Regions from separate parts of the Homo sapiens genome. Here all the other regions are linked to region 1. Evidence: fine-mapped expression QTL. A gene starts in region 1. Each other region holds a variant in brackets. All regions are shown on one strand. Distances are from middle to middle. Region 1 holds the start of RFTN1 (raftlin, lipid raft linker 1). Region 2 overlaps RFTN1 (raftlin, lipid raft linker 1). Region 3 overlaps RFTN1 (raftlin, lipid raft linker 1).

What was found. PIP is the estimated chance that this variant, and not a neighbour inherited with it, causes the effect. A credible set is the group of variants that fine-mapping cannot tell apart.
Region 2: its variant is the best candidate, but not a certain one, in a credible set for the expression of RFTN1 in lung (TOPMed, PIP 0.89).
Region 3: its variant is the best candidate, but not a certain one, in a credible set for the expression of RFTN1 in whole blood (INTERVAL, PIP 0.88).

The regions. Positions count from the first base shown.
Region 1 is chr3:16,512,045-16,516,260 of GRCh38, forward strand. It overlaps RFTN1 (raftlin, lipid raft linker 1), which reads right to left and starts at 1,655. Exons shown (of 10, transcript NM_015150.2): 1 at 1,398-1,655. RefSeq lists enhancers at 95-504, 1,055-1,134 and silencers at 1,425-1,784, 1,815-1,884, 3,038-3,213, 3,821-3,870.
Region 2 is chr3:16,458,084-16,462,299 of GRCh38, forward strand. The region is part of intron 2 of RFTN1 (raftlin, lipid raft linker 1); the gene reads right to left. Among named protein-coding and RNA genes, the nearest start is that of RFTN1, 54 kb to the right of the region's middle. The variant T/C (reference allele first, on the strand shown) is at 2,419.
Region 3 is chr3:16,466,907-16,471,122 of GRCh38, forward strand. All of the region lies in intron 2 of RFTN1 (raftlin, lipid raft linker 1), which reads right to left. Among named protein-coding and RNA genes, the nearest start is that of RFTN1, 45 kb to the right of the region's middle. RefSeq lists enhancers at 518-647, 888-1,017. The variant T/C (reference allele first, on the strand shown) is at 2,394.

The DNA of each region.
Region 1 (4,216 bases):
TAGAGTGATTTCACTGAGGTTAGCACACACGCACCAAAGAGTCCCAAACAGCTTGCTTCGTAACCCCTCTCTGGGGTTTGGTGACATCTGGGGTCACTTGAACTTCGTTGGGATTCAGCTGTTCAGAGATACAAATTAGGAATCCCGGCAGCAGAGAGGCCCTACCCACAGGCCCAGAGGTCGCTCACATTACACCCGGCTTCCTTCCTGGCAAGGCCTTAACTTATCCTGAGATGACACACGATGGCAGGGGTTGGAAGATGCCTAGTCTAGTTGAGCGCCCAGCTCCTGAAACAGCTGTACCGACTACAAGGGTTCCAGCACATGAGTTGCTGGAAACTGGGGTGACCACTGACAGAGATTGAGCCAGACTTTTTTTTTAAAAAAGTACTTCTTGTTTGTTTGTTTTAAGCCCCCGAAGAAACTCACTGACACCACCCAGCGTCCCTAGGGATCACCCATAACCACACAGGGCAGCTGAGGGCAAGCACAGAGTCACAGACAGACAGCAGGGAGCGTGCCTGGTTCTACAACCTTGGCCTCCACGCGGTTCTTGCTGCCAAAGGCAGCGACACCGGAGGTGAAGGGCACCAGCCCTGGCCTAGGACTGGGGTGCGCGTGCCTGACAACGGGGCTTCCCGAAATACACAACCACCTCCTCCTCGCCCAGACCCATATCCATCCTGGCGTCCCTTGAGTCTAGAGAAGTGGGTTAAGACAAGGGAAGAAAATCCCTTACAGAAGAGGAGATCCCCGTTTTCAGTGCTGGGGACTCTCGGCACCCGCGTCCCTGTGCTTCTGGTGGTTCCGGCGCTTCCTCGGAGCGCGCGGCATGTCTGCTCCTACACGTCCAGCACCTCTGTCCCCAGAGCAAACCCACCTCCCAGGGCACACGCAGAGGGGCAGTCAGGCACCGCCTCCACCCTGCCCCACCCAGGCCGCGCGCACCCCGGAAACCTGGACTCCGCGACCAGCTCCCTCCTGTTCTTTTCCGAGGACCCCAGCGGCAGTGTGTCCTGGACCCACCTGTAGCCTCCAAGCTCCCCCACCTCTGCGTCCTTCCTAGGCGCTTCTGAGCCTGCAGAGCCTACGACCCCCAACAGGCTGCTCCGAAGTGCCTCTCCCTACATCGCTCCAGGAATGACTCCCCTACACCCGTTCCCCGCAAAAAAAAGTTGGCCCAAGATCCAGGCGTCCCAAGGATCAGCCCAGGTCCCCATCCGACGCGGGCCAGGGGGTGCTGCTCTGGCAGCTCCGGAGCCCCGGCAAAGAGCAACCTGCAGGGAGGCGCCACGCGCGGTTCCCACTACCCGCCAGAGACCCGGTCCATGGGGCCAAACGGAGGGGCCTGTGCCGGTCGACACCCCAAGCCCTGTCGCGCCCCCCCCGCCGCCTACCGTATGGGACCGGCGGAGGAGAAGGCGCGGTCGCGGGCTCCCTGAGGCAGCGTGTTCCGTCCCGGGAGGAAAGTTTGTGCCATACAGAGGAGGCGGCGCGGGGAGGACTTGGGCGCCGGTGGGTGGAGGCGTGGGCGGTGGCGCCGCGTGGTCGTGTGTCTGTCCCTCCGGCGATCGGTGCGTCTGTCCCTCGCCGGAGCCCGCGGCCGCCGCGCTCTCGCTCGCTGCGCCCAGCGCCCGGCGCGCTCCGGCTCCAGCCCCGACGCGCCCCCGCCGCCGCCGCCGCGCGTCCGCCGGCTACACTTCCTCTTCCTCTGAACTCATGTGCAAAATATGCTACGCTGCATCTTCAGGGAAAGCCTCGCGGCCCCTGACAGCAGCCGCTGGAGCGGTGGGCCCGCCCAGCTCTCCCCGCGCCCCCTCGGAGTTCCGCCCGGTCACCTCCACGCGGCCGAGCTGCAAGCGACCCTGGCAGCCTCAGAACCCAGGGGTCAGGGGCTCATCGATCCTCCCTCCCAGCCCCTCCTAATCAAGGTTGTGTGCTGTCAGGAAGAGCGCCTGGGAGACAAGGATCCTTCAAGATTTGAGCCAGGATGCTGAAAGGGCGACTGCCATCAAGGTGCTGATGGCTGGGGGTGGGGTTGGGGCCGACTTGAGAGAGGACCATTTCTCGACCCCATTCCACAGGTGGGAGCATCCCTAAACATCTCAGGTGCTGCTGAAATTCTCTCTTGCGAGTTAGTGCTTCAGGGAAGGGTAATGCCACTGTCTCCGTTGCCATCCCTTGGTCTACCTACTTAAGATGTCCAGAGGTTTGAGAAGATCTGGAGAATCACCTTGCGTGGCAACTTGAGGCACCCAGGGAGAAAATTATATAAAGAGTGAAGCACTAGTAAACCAGGCTGCATTAGTAAAGTGAAGATGTGAGGCAAGGAGCCATTAGAAAATATTTTCTTCGTAAAACTAAACCAAGCAGAATTACAGTGTAGGGGTTAAGAGGGGGAACTTTAAAGTCAAATAATCAGGGTTGGATTCCTGGCTTTAGTACTTACTGGCTGTGTGACTTTGGGTAAGTGACTTAACTGCTCTGCGCCTATTTGTCACATGGCACTTCTTCGTGGGTTATTATATGTAAAGTGTTTAGCAACCACTCTATAACTTAGCTATTATCATTATTTTAAGGGGGCTAGAACAAGAAGGGTGAGATAATTTAATTAATTATCTCCATTTTCTAATTGGGCAAAGAAGACCCTGTGTGGGCAAAGTTAAGCACTGGAGCACACAGGGTGGAGGGCTGGTTTAGGGGCCCAGCAGTGTTTCGATGAGGTCCTTCTGGCACTAATAACACTCCTCCAGCAAGTAAGGAAGCACTATTTTGTTTTCAGGGACTCTTCCTGTTACCACAGCTTCTCAGAGATTTTCTTCCTTATTTTCTCTTTCCATAGCCTTTCTAGTTCTGTTTTGCTCCCCCTCCCTCACCACTGTTTTGTTTTTATTTGTTTTTCTCCTTTCCCTTTCCACCCCACCTTTTCCTGGTGTCACACTCACCACCACTATCCCCAGTGTCCCCCATTTCCCCCCTACACTTGAGCTTGCCACATGAAAGAAAATAAGACCAGGTGACCACGTAAGTCCAGGTTCAGACAGTAGTGCGCAGGGACATTTGCTCAGGGGCATCACCAGAGGTTGTGAACACCCATTTATGAAGCCAAAGGGAGGGGTCTTCATGCTATCTATCTGCCCGAGGCCTTGAATTGCTGCAAGTCAGGGTCCATCCAAAATCTTTCTGATCCTTTGCTGGTCACTAGGCCACAGAAAGAAAATAAAATTGATAGGTGTTAACCGGTAGGCATTTAAAAGAAGATAAAGGAAAAAGGAGGGTGGGGGTGGGGGAATGCAGCATAACCTAGTTGCAGTGTGCTTGATTTCTTTTAAGCAAATCATTTTCACTCTATAAAACTTTTGCACACCGTTGTGTTTTTTGTGCTTTTTTTTTTTAAGACACCAGTGCTTGAGGTTAATATGCTATTCTGATTGCTTCCATTTTCTTCCACTCAATATTTTCCCGAGTGCTAATAATCATGGGCAAATGTCTTAAATGACTTTTTTCCCTGCTTGGATCTGCATTTTTGAGGGTTTTCTAGAACTCCTGATCTTCTTGATATTCTGATGCTTCCTACTGGCACATAGTAGGTGTTCAGTAAATATGTGTGGAATGAGTGGATGAGCCAATAGCATGCAGATCTTTCAAGGCTCTTCTTAACCTGCATTCAGCAATTATCCAGGGTGTTCCAATTCTCTTTCACCTGGAATATTTAATGAGGAGCCAAATGTTGGATTCACTTGTGTTCTGTAGAGAGCTGCCTGGATTTTCCACTTGACTGCTATGGACTGGCCAGCCATGGGAGAGACCCTGGGCAGCTGGGTCTCACTTCTAACTGACCTTGCCTACCCAGCCCCAACCCCAAAGATGCTGGGACTGTATCCTAGTGGGTTACCTTGGCAACCTCACAATGTCATCTGTTAGAATGTCCTAGGGCGGCAGCTTTTAATTCTATCACAGCGGTCTCATCGGGGGTCATGTAATAGTGCTGTTTTTTCTCTGCTCACACTTCCTCCCCCTGTGATTTAACACTAAGTACTCGGGGAGGAGCTGAACACGGGAAAAACCAAGCTATTACTGCATGACAGGTCACAGATGGCCCCAGAACTGGGGTCCCGAGTGTTCACAGTCAATAAGACGCAGGTCCCAAGCTAATGGGGAAGCTGGATCTCCTCACACCCCCTGTGGAAAGAAGAGGAGTTAAGCCAGCCTAGGC
Region 2 (4,216 bases), 54 kb before region 1:
AGAACTGTGAGCAAAAAAAAATCTTTGTTCTTTATAAACTACCCAGTCTTGGGTATTTCGTTTCAACAACACAAAATAGACTAAGACAGACATTCTTTGAGCACCTACTATGTGCCATGCTTGTGTTAGGTACCAGGAAGATAAAAGGAAACAAGATGAGATGATTAGACAATAGAGGTGTACAAAGCCAGCAGGGGCAAGCATGGAAATAGATTGCTGCAGCATGTTCTGCTGTATTATTCAGGTCCAGGTATGCTCGGGGTGCTGGAGTTTCAGGTAGTGGGGTGCTATGCCCAGGATACAGCAGAAAGGAAAAGGAAAAGTGTTTCTCTCACTGACATTTGGAAGACATTTTCCCTCCTCATGATGTGAATTTTTCCTTTCACTTGTCATTAATTCTGTTCATCTGCAAGAAGCCCATCTATCTATAGCTTTCCTTTTGCAGTAGCTTTTCAATAGTGGATCTTTATTGAGCTTTTCCATCTTTGTAAATCGTAAATTGTCCTTTCAACATGCATAATGACAAGCATTTCGACCCACACACTCTATTTACATATCATAGCAAACAGCCTCTTATTTAGATGTCAAATTCCAGCAACTAAAAACTCAGATCCACAAAACAGCAAGAAGCCAAATAATTCTCAAAACCATAATGCTTTCCATAAACTTCAGTTCCCTTTGGGCAGTCCTTCAGGCCATATAGCTGTTCTTTTTAAATACACATTTATAATGAATCTGTCCATCTGTTTTTCTAGCAGATTAGAAGTACAAAAATCAGGGGAGTCATCTGAAAACATGGTGCTTAGCTTCACGAATTCCCTAAAAGTTACAACCCAGGGCTACTGGGTTTTCCTTTCTTTTCTTTTCCTTGAGACAGCGTCTCACTCTGTCACCAGGTTGGAGAGCAGTGATGCCATCACAGGTCACTGCAGCCTCGACCTCCCAGACTCAGGTGATTCTCCCACCTCAGCCTCCCGAGTAGCTGGGACCACAGGTGTGCACCATGCCCAGCTAATTTTTTGTATTTTTTGTAGAGATGAGGTTTCGCTGTTGCTCAGGCTAGTCTTGAACCCCTGGGCTCAAGCAATCCACTCGCCTTAGCCTCCCAAAGTGCTGGAATTACAGGTATGAGCCACTGTGCCTGGCCACTACTGTGTTTTCTGAAGGAAATTAGTTTTAACAGAACCAGAAAGGACTAAGTAATATCCACAATGTGTAACAGACACCTAAACTCTTACATGAAGAGTTATGTGCCCTAGTAGAAAACTATTTTTCATTTTCTCATATCTCAAAAGATTGAAAATTACAAATCCTAGCACTTTGGGAGGCTGAAGCGGGAGTCTCTACTTTAAAAATTTAAAAATGAGCCAGGAATAGCAGCGTGTGCCTTTATCCCAGCTACTTGGAGACTAAGGTGGGGCACTGCTTAAGCTCAGGAGTTCAAGGCTACAGTGAGCTGTGATCGTGCCACTGCACTCAGCCTGGGTGACAGAGTGAGACCCTGTGTTTCTAAAATAATAATAATAATAAGTAAATAAATGAAAATTACAAATAAAACTCAACTCTACATTCAAAATTTTCTTAAAATTTTTCTTAAAAATTCTAGTCCATGTGCAGAATTCACTTGCTTAAATAAGCCATCACTTATATCTAGTCAATATCATCATGTTATAGAAAAAAGTTGAAAAAGGAACATATTATAGAATTATTGGCCATTGTTGTTTATTTAAATGCTAGAAAAAAAATAAGATTTATATACAATAAGTTTTGAGAGAAGTTTATCATTTTTTGGTTCCTATAACTTTTAGTTATTTGACATTTGCAAACTAAACTGGAAAACTAAGAAAATTAAATGTGATTTTTTTCTTCTCAGATAACTGAAGCCAAGACATTTTTGAGAACATGAATTTTCCATATGATTGACTTATTTCAATGCTTTGAGTGGGCATAGCTTTATTCTAAATTTTTATGAATTTTAGAGTTGATTCAGAAATTACAATGTGAATATTATATAAAATCAGATAATAATGTAGTATGTAAAATATGCATGGTGGAAGGAGTAAACTGTGTAGATTATTCTGGCCCTGCAAAACACAGAAGTGTCTCAATTTCTCTTTTTCCACCGTGATTTTTATCTATTGTGTTATTTTGATATTTGTACATTTACTGGGATCTGGCAGGATGAGTTGCACATGGGTAGCATTTATATTAACTAAATTTGGTTTTCATTTTAGAAACAAATTCCTCCTTTCTTCTTTTTTTCTGCTGCCAAAGCCCAATAGGCTTATAAATAAATACACAGCCCACAGGAAAGACTTGAGGAGGTTCAGGTAGACATTTCATTTGAATTTCCGGAGCCTGGTTTTATCTTAACAGCCCTCATACTCCTTGGACCACACCTGGGCAAGCAAAGTGAAG[T/C]GGGAAATAAAATAGTTGGATCAATGACGTCAACAACCAACGCCGCTGTCCAAAACCAAAACCTCACATTTCAAGCAGAGGCTGGGTGGGGAATATATATTTTTTTAACCTAAATCTTCTTCTCATTTTCTCCTTTTTTGGTGAGGGTAGAAATATCATGTAAGAGGCCTGTTATACAGATAACTAACGCAAGAGACACGTGAGCAGACGTCACTTGAGCCTCATTTTCCATGCCAAAATTCAGGATTTAAGGTCTAAAACCATAGAGAATATTTTAGAGCTAGATGGTTCCAGAAAATCTGAGACATGTGGCCACCACAGCTGTGAAGTGGCCCACTCTCTCCCACCTACCCACCCCAGAATTTCTTACCCTTCATAAGGCAGCCCCTACTCGAGGCTGGCCAGACTTCTTCAACAAATGACAGACAAAGCAGGTTTGGTCCCAATGTAAAATGAAGTCTCAGAACCCACGGCTCAGCCATTTTGGAGAGTGAGATGAGGAGGCCACGCCACAGAGGCCCTCGGGCAGCACAGCTGCCATGACAATATGGGCCAGTGCCAGGAATAGGAAGGATCAAGTTAAATGTTTGTGATCCAATAACAAAACCACAACATGGGCCCCATTAAGCAAGGTTTAGGTAGAAGCTAATGAACTGAATCTAATTTTCTTTTGACCATCTTTGACAAGGAATAAGCTCTGCTATAATGAGTTTCTTAGGCAATTCAAATATAGACATTACAGTGGGGCTCAATAAAAAAAAACAACTCTCACAAAGGAGCTGATCTCCTCAAATAGACTCTAAGGTGGTTTAACTGGGAAGCATATATATATTTCTTTAAAACTCTTCCGTGAATAATCAGGAATAATTATCCATTTTAAAATACTTTTTATATTTCCATTTTTAATTAAAAATATATACACATACACGTACATAAATACATACACATAAATGTATGAATTTTCCACCAGGAAACCCACACTAAATACCTAGGGTTTTTCTGTACTAATTGAACACACTATCACACTATAACCCAAAGGCCTGGCCACAGACAATAGCAGATGCTTCAAGAGAAAGAATAGGGCCCTTTCAGCCAATTATACAATTACACGATATGACCATGTTTACATTATCAAAGGGAGGCAGACCAAATTACCTAGCTACTTCAAATTAATAACCCCATTTACCTCAATTATCTGGCAGGCAGGGTCTAAATAACCTGAGTAATTACTTCAATTCATTCAGATGGTATAGATTTGGCCTGTGTGTCCACAAGTAATTTTTCCTTCCAGTACACACACCTTAAACCATCAGCAAATATCAAAATGCACAACAGCAAACTCCTGTCAGTTTCATCTATAAGCAGTGTAAGCAAATCCTCTCCATTATCTGGCAGATTAAAATTTGTTATACTCTTAATAATCCAGGTTGAGGTTTTCTTTTCTGACAAAAACTCACTGGACCATAGAATTTTAGAGCTAGGAAGTACCATCCAGGGCCCACAGTCTAAAAGCCAGCTCCTGGAAGCAGTCCAACCAGAAATTCAGCCTGCTCACTCATAGCACGTAAGGCAAGGAGGTCTGAAGCCCAAATGCGTGGGTTCAAATCCTGGCTCTGCCACTTACTAGCTGAATGGCCTTGGCAAGTTCCTAAACCTTGCCAAGCCTGAGTCCTCTTCTGTACAATGGTGGTAATAAGGGAACCTGATTTATAGAGTCAGAACAAGGATTAAATGAGACAATCCACATAATGCACTTAGCATGCTTCTTGGCACATAACTACTATTGTTAAGCCCGTAC
Region 3 (4,216 bases), 45 kb before region 1:
GGAGGATAAAAAGGAAGGTCACTCTGATTGAAGAGGAGATGGTTAGTAGGGGGATGGATGCAAAGGCCAGATGTGGGAGAAAGAGACTGGCAGGCCTAAGGTCAATTCTTATCTTGTCAGTGTGGAGAAAAATGTGTTACCAGCAGCGTTTAGTCTAATGATGTGTGAGAGATACACAAAACAAAAAGGGGGGTGAGGGTTTTGGGTAGAAGGAAATCATGATCGTAGTCCACTCCTGAGCTAAAGGCCTGAGCCTGGGAACCAGTGGGAGGAATGAAACAGACGGATGCATAGAGAGATGCTGGAAAGAATAATCAAGTGGATATGATGGCATTGGAAATGAGGGAAGGCAGGAGAATAAACCACAGTGCCTTGGTCTTTCAATTTTGAGGAAGAAAGATCCCAAGGTCAATAACACCTCACTTATGCAGAGGCCCCTTGGCTCACAAACTCAGCCATCCAGATGCAGCCCCCTCCTTCTCAGACTGCTCCAGTGCCATCCACAACATTCCACACAGGCCCTACACACAGGACATGGCCCCGGCTGCCTCCGCTGCCCGCCACTCATCCTCATCTCTACTGGATCCAGACACTTGACTCATTCGTGATCCTCAAACATGCCAAGCACATGCTGACCCCGGAAGGAGCCTTCTGTAAGAGAGTGGGCAGGGCCTGAGCCCGGGGAATGCCCAGGGTTAAGGGGAAGCAGAGAAAAGCCCTCAAAGAGGAGTGGCCAAAAGAGGTGATGACCGTGCGCCATGGAAGGGAAACCAGAGATGCAAAAAGCCAACGGCAGTTCATGCACATCAAAAGCTTCAGGGGCATGCAAGTGAATGGAAACAAAGTTCAGTTGAAGAAAGGAATAAAGAAAGGAAGGAAAGAAGACAGAAATGGGTGAAAGCCTTTCACAGCAAATATCTCTGGCAGACAGAGCAGGGAGCAGACCCCAGAGGAAGGAAGTCTAAAAGAGCTTCATCCCTCACCCCACTCGTGCATTTTGGCAGCACCCACCTAAGAGTACACTTTGGGGAAAGAGGGTGAGAGAAGCAGGCTCGCTCTTACTACTACCCCCAAATTAATTCCTCAGCAAGCCTTTCCCATTCATTATCATCATCTTTTCTTCATAAATCAAGTCTGCCAGACTCAAAGACTGGAACATTCAGGAAGTGCTTACTCAAAACATAGAAACATCAATATGGAGACTGCAGACCCCAGAATGATAACAGGGTGAGCTATATTTATATCCCACGGCTGGTGATGCCTCAGCACACTTCACTCTCTAGAAATTCCGTCGGCTTAATTTATGTGGCTCATTCCTCATTCCCTTTCAGCTGACAGGCTTCTTATCTTTTTCATTTGGAAACTTATCTGTAGGAGTTCCCAAACCCTCACTGTCGTTCGTTTTTGAAGTACCTGCATTCTGTCTCGAGTTTCCGGTAGATAAGTAGGGCTCCCTTAGATGCTGTCTGCCTATACCCCATGACTGTCAAAAATGTCCCCACCCTGGGATCAGGCATCAGATCCTAACAACACTGACAGAGTGAAGGGCACGTTTCTCCCTTTGGTGGGATTTTCTCTTCCAAGCCATTAAAACACTTTAAGATGCCTTTTCATATCTTTGCTATCTTTAGATTAGATGCTTAATGCATAAATCAGCCCAAATAGAGTGATGGAGTAGCGGGGAGAGGCTGACGCATTTCCTCACGTACAACCCAGCGTTTGAGTAAAAAAAAAAAAAAAAAAAACTTTACTCAGAAAAAAGATAAGGCTAAAATCAGATCTCAGATTAAAAATGGTAAGGAAATTGCAACTAGCTGTAGCCAATTCAAGCTGAGCCAATTATCACCAATCATAAAAGATGACTTATAAGAGGCCCTGGTGCCCCAGTACAATGGAGCAATTAAATCTTTATAACTGAGACAAAAAAAATGCCACATAATTAGACACAGCCAGAAAAGGGTACGTATGCTTCCCCTTCCTGTGGCTGGCCCATTAGGGCAGGCATGCAGCCATTTCTTCACTGCCAAAAGGCCAATCCATTCCCCCCATCACTCAGCCTGCCTGAATCGCATCTGACACTGGCCACTAAGGTGGAGTTTCCTTTGGCCACAGGCCACTAACAATCCTTGAGTTCCCGCCTATCCCACGTCCAAATAAGTACAAGAATAACAGTGTCCTTATCCCACAGGTTACATGTGAAAAATATCTAGCTGTCTATTGAAGAAGTCAAGGGCATAGCTTCCGGAGCTAGGCACTAAGGTTCAAATCCTAGCTGCGCAACTCCCTAGCAGTTTTCTCATCTGTAAAATGTGCATAATCATAGTATATACTTCACTGAGTGTTGTGGGGATTAAAAGAATTAATATATGTGAAGGACTTCGAAGCGTGACTGG[T/C]ATATATTAGGTGCTATGTGAGTCGGTTGTTGTTATTACATACTTCCCAATAGTATCATTATCATCATCATCATTATTATTAAGCACTTTACAATAGCAAGAGTTGCCATCAGCAGCCAGTTATGAGGCTGTTATGCTTATCCAGGCTGGACAAATCTGGGCCACTGGTTAGAGGAATGGAGAAGACAAGCTGACACCAAGAGACAGTGCAAAGGCAGGTGCACGACCTTCCACAGATGCCTGGTGCAGGCGGGAAGGAACTGGAGACGCAAAGTGGGACTCCAGGATGCCGCACTGGGGAGCATGGTAGGGCGTGCTCCACAGAGGGAAGGGGGGAAGAGAGAGGACCAGGAGCTTGGGGGCAGACATGCTGGCCTGAGGCCCCTCCAGGACTTCCACAGAGGACGGCCTTGGGCCCAGAGGATGCTTGCTCACCTTGAACATGAAGCTACTTCTTTTTCCCTCCTTGCACAACAGCACTGACTGGACACAAAGCCAAAGTCAACCCCAGGGGAAGATAGGACAAACAATCACAGCAAGTACATCCCCAAGGACCCTTTCTGTTGACACAGGGACATTTCCTGAAGGTTTATTCTGCCCCAGCCGCTCCAGATATGTTATCTCATTTCACCCTGACAATAACCCAGAGGAGCTGTGTGCTCAGAAAGGGTTAAGTGACTTGCTCAAGGTCATGGGGTTAGCAAGGAGCAGAAGTGAAAATTGAACCTAGATCTGTCAGAAAGAGAGGGGGGTCCAGGCTACAGACCCAGAAACTTGTGTTCTGACACCAGAGATGGGATTTCTCTGGGCCTTCATTTGTCTATCTTTAAAATGGGGATATTTGTCCTTCCTGCTCCACTTCTGGTATGACTGAGGATGCTCCTATAGATCAAGTCTCCTGCAGATAACAACTATAAACTCTGCACACACGCACACACACACACACACACATACAGACATAAAAACAAAACAAAACAAAACAAAGCAACTTTCTGAGGGCACTGGAGAGGAAGCCAAGGCAGGCAGATACTGGAGGGCATCAACACTTGCAAGAAAAGTACTGCACTGGGCGAGGTTTTGTCTCTGATGGCTTTTAGCCCAAGGGCAGGCCCTGGTTGGTACCACAGGAGCAGCTAAAACTCGGACAGAAACCCACAGTTTACTGGCTTGAAGAAACAGAAGACAGAACACAGGGCTACTTCAGCTGGTAGAATATGAAGAGAAAACCCCAGAAAGGAGAGAGCCAGAGAAAAGAGCCCCAGATTCTGTGTATAAACTCTGCCCAGATCTCTGGCAGACTCCTGAACCATGCATGCACGAGGTACTCCCTAAGCAACCCAGCTAAGGCTAAAAGAACAAATTTCAGCTGCCACCCAAGAGACAGAGTTGGCAGCTGGAGTCCAACTGCTTGTTTGCTAAAGCAAACAAACAAAATCAACAGTCATCAGAAGAATATAACAGAATCCAGAGTCTCCACACCATCACAGTCACAATGTCCAGGATACAATTCAAAATTACCACAAAAATGTCATAAAAAATGTTACCCATTTTAAAGAAAAATGGCAATCAATGAAGACCAATCCCAAGTTACACAGGGTGCTAGAATTAACAAACAAGAATTTCCAGATAACTATTATAACTAAATTCAATATCTGTCCAACCTACCTCACAGAGTTGTTAAAGGTAAAATATGCAAGCAAAAAGTGCTTTGGAAAGTTTCACATACACTACCTCTAAAAAATAAAAATAGAAGTGGTCTCCACTTTTTATATCTGTTCCCAAAAACCACAGAATAAAGCAAACCATTTTAATATGCATCTTTC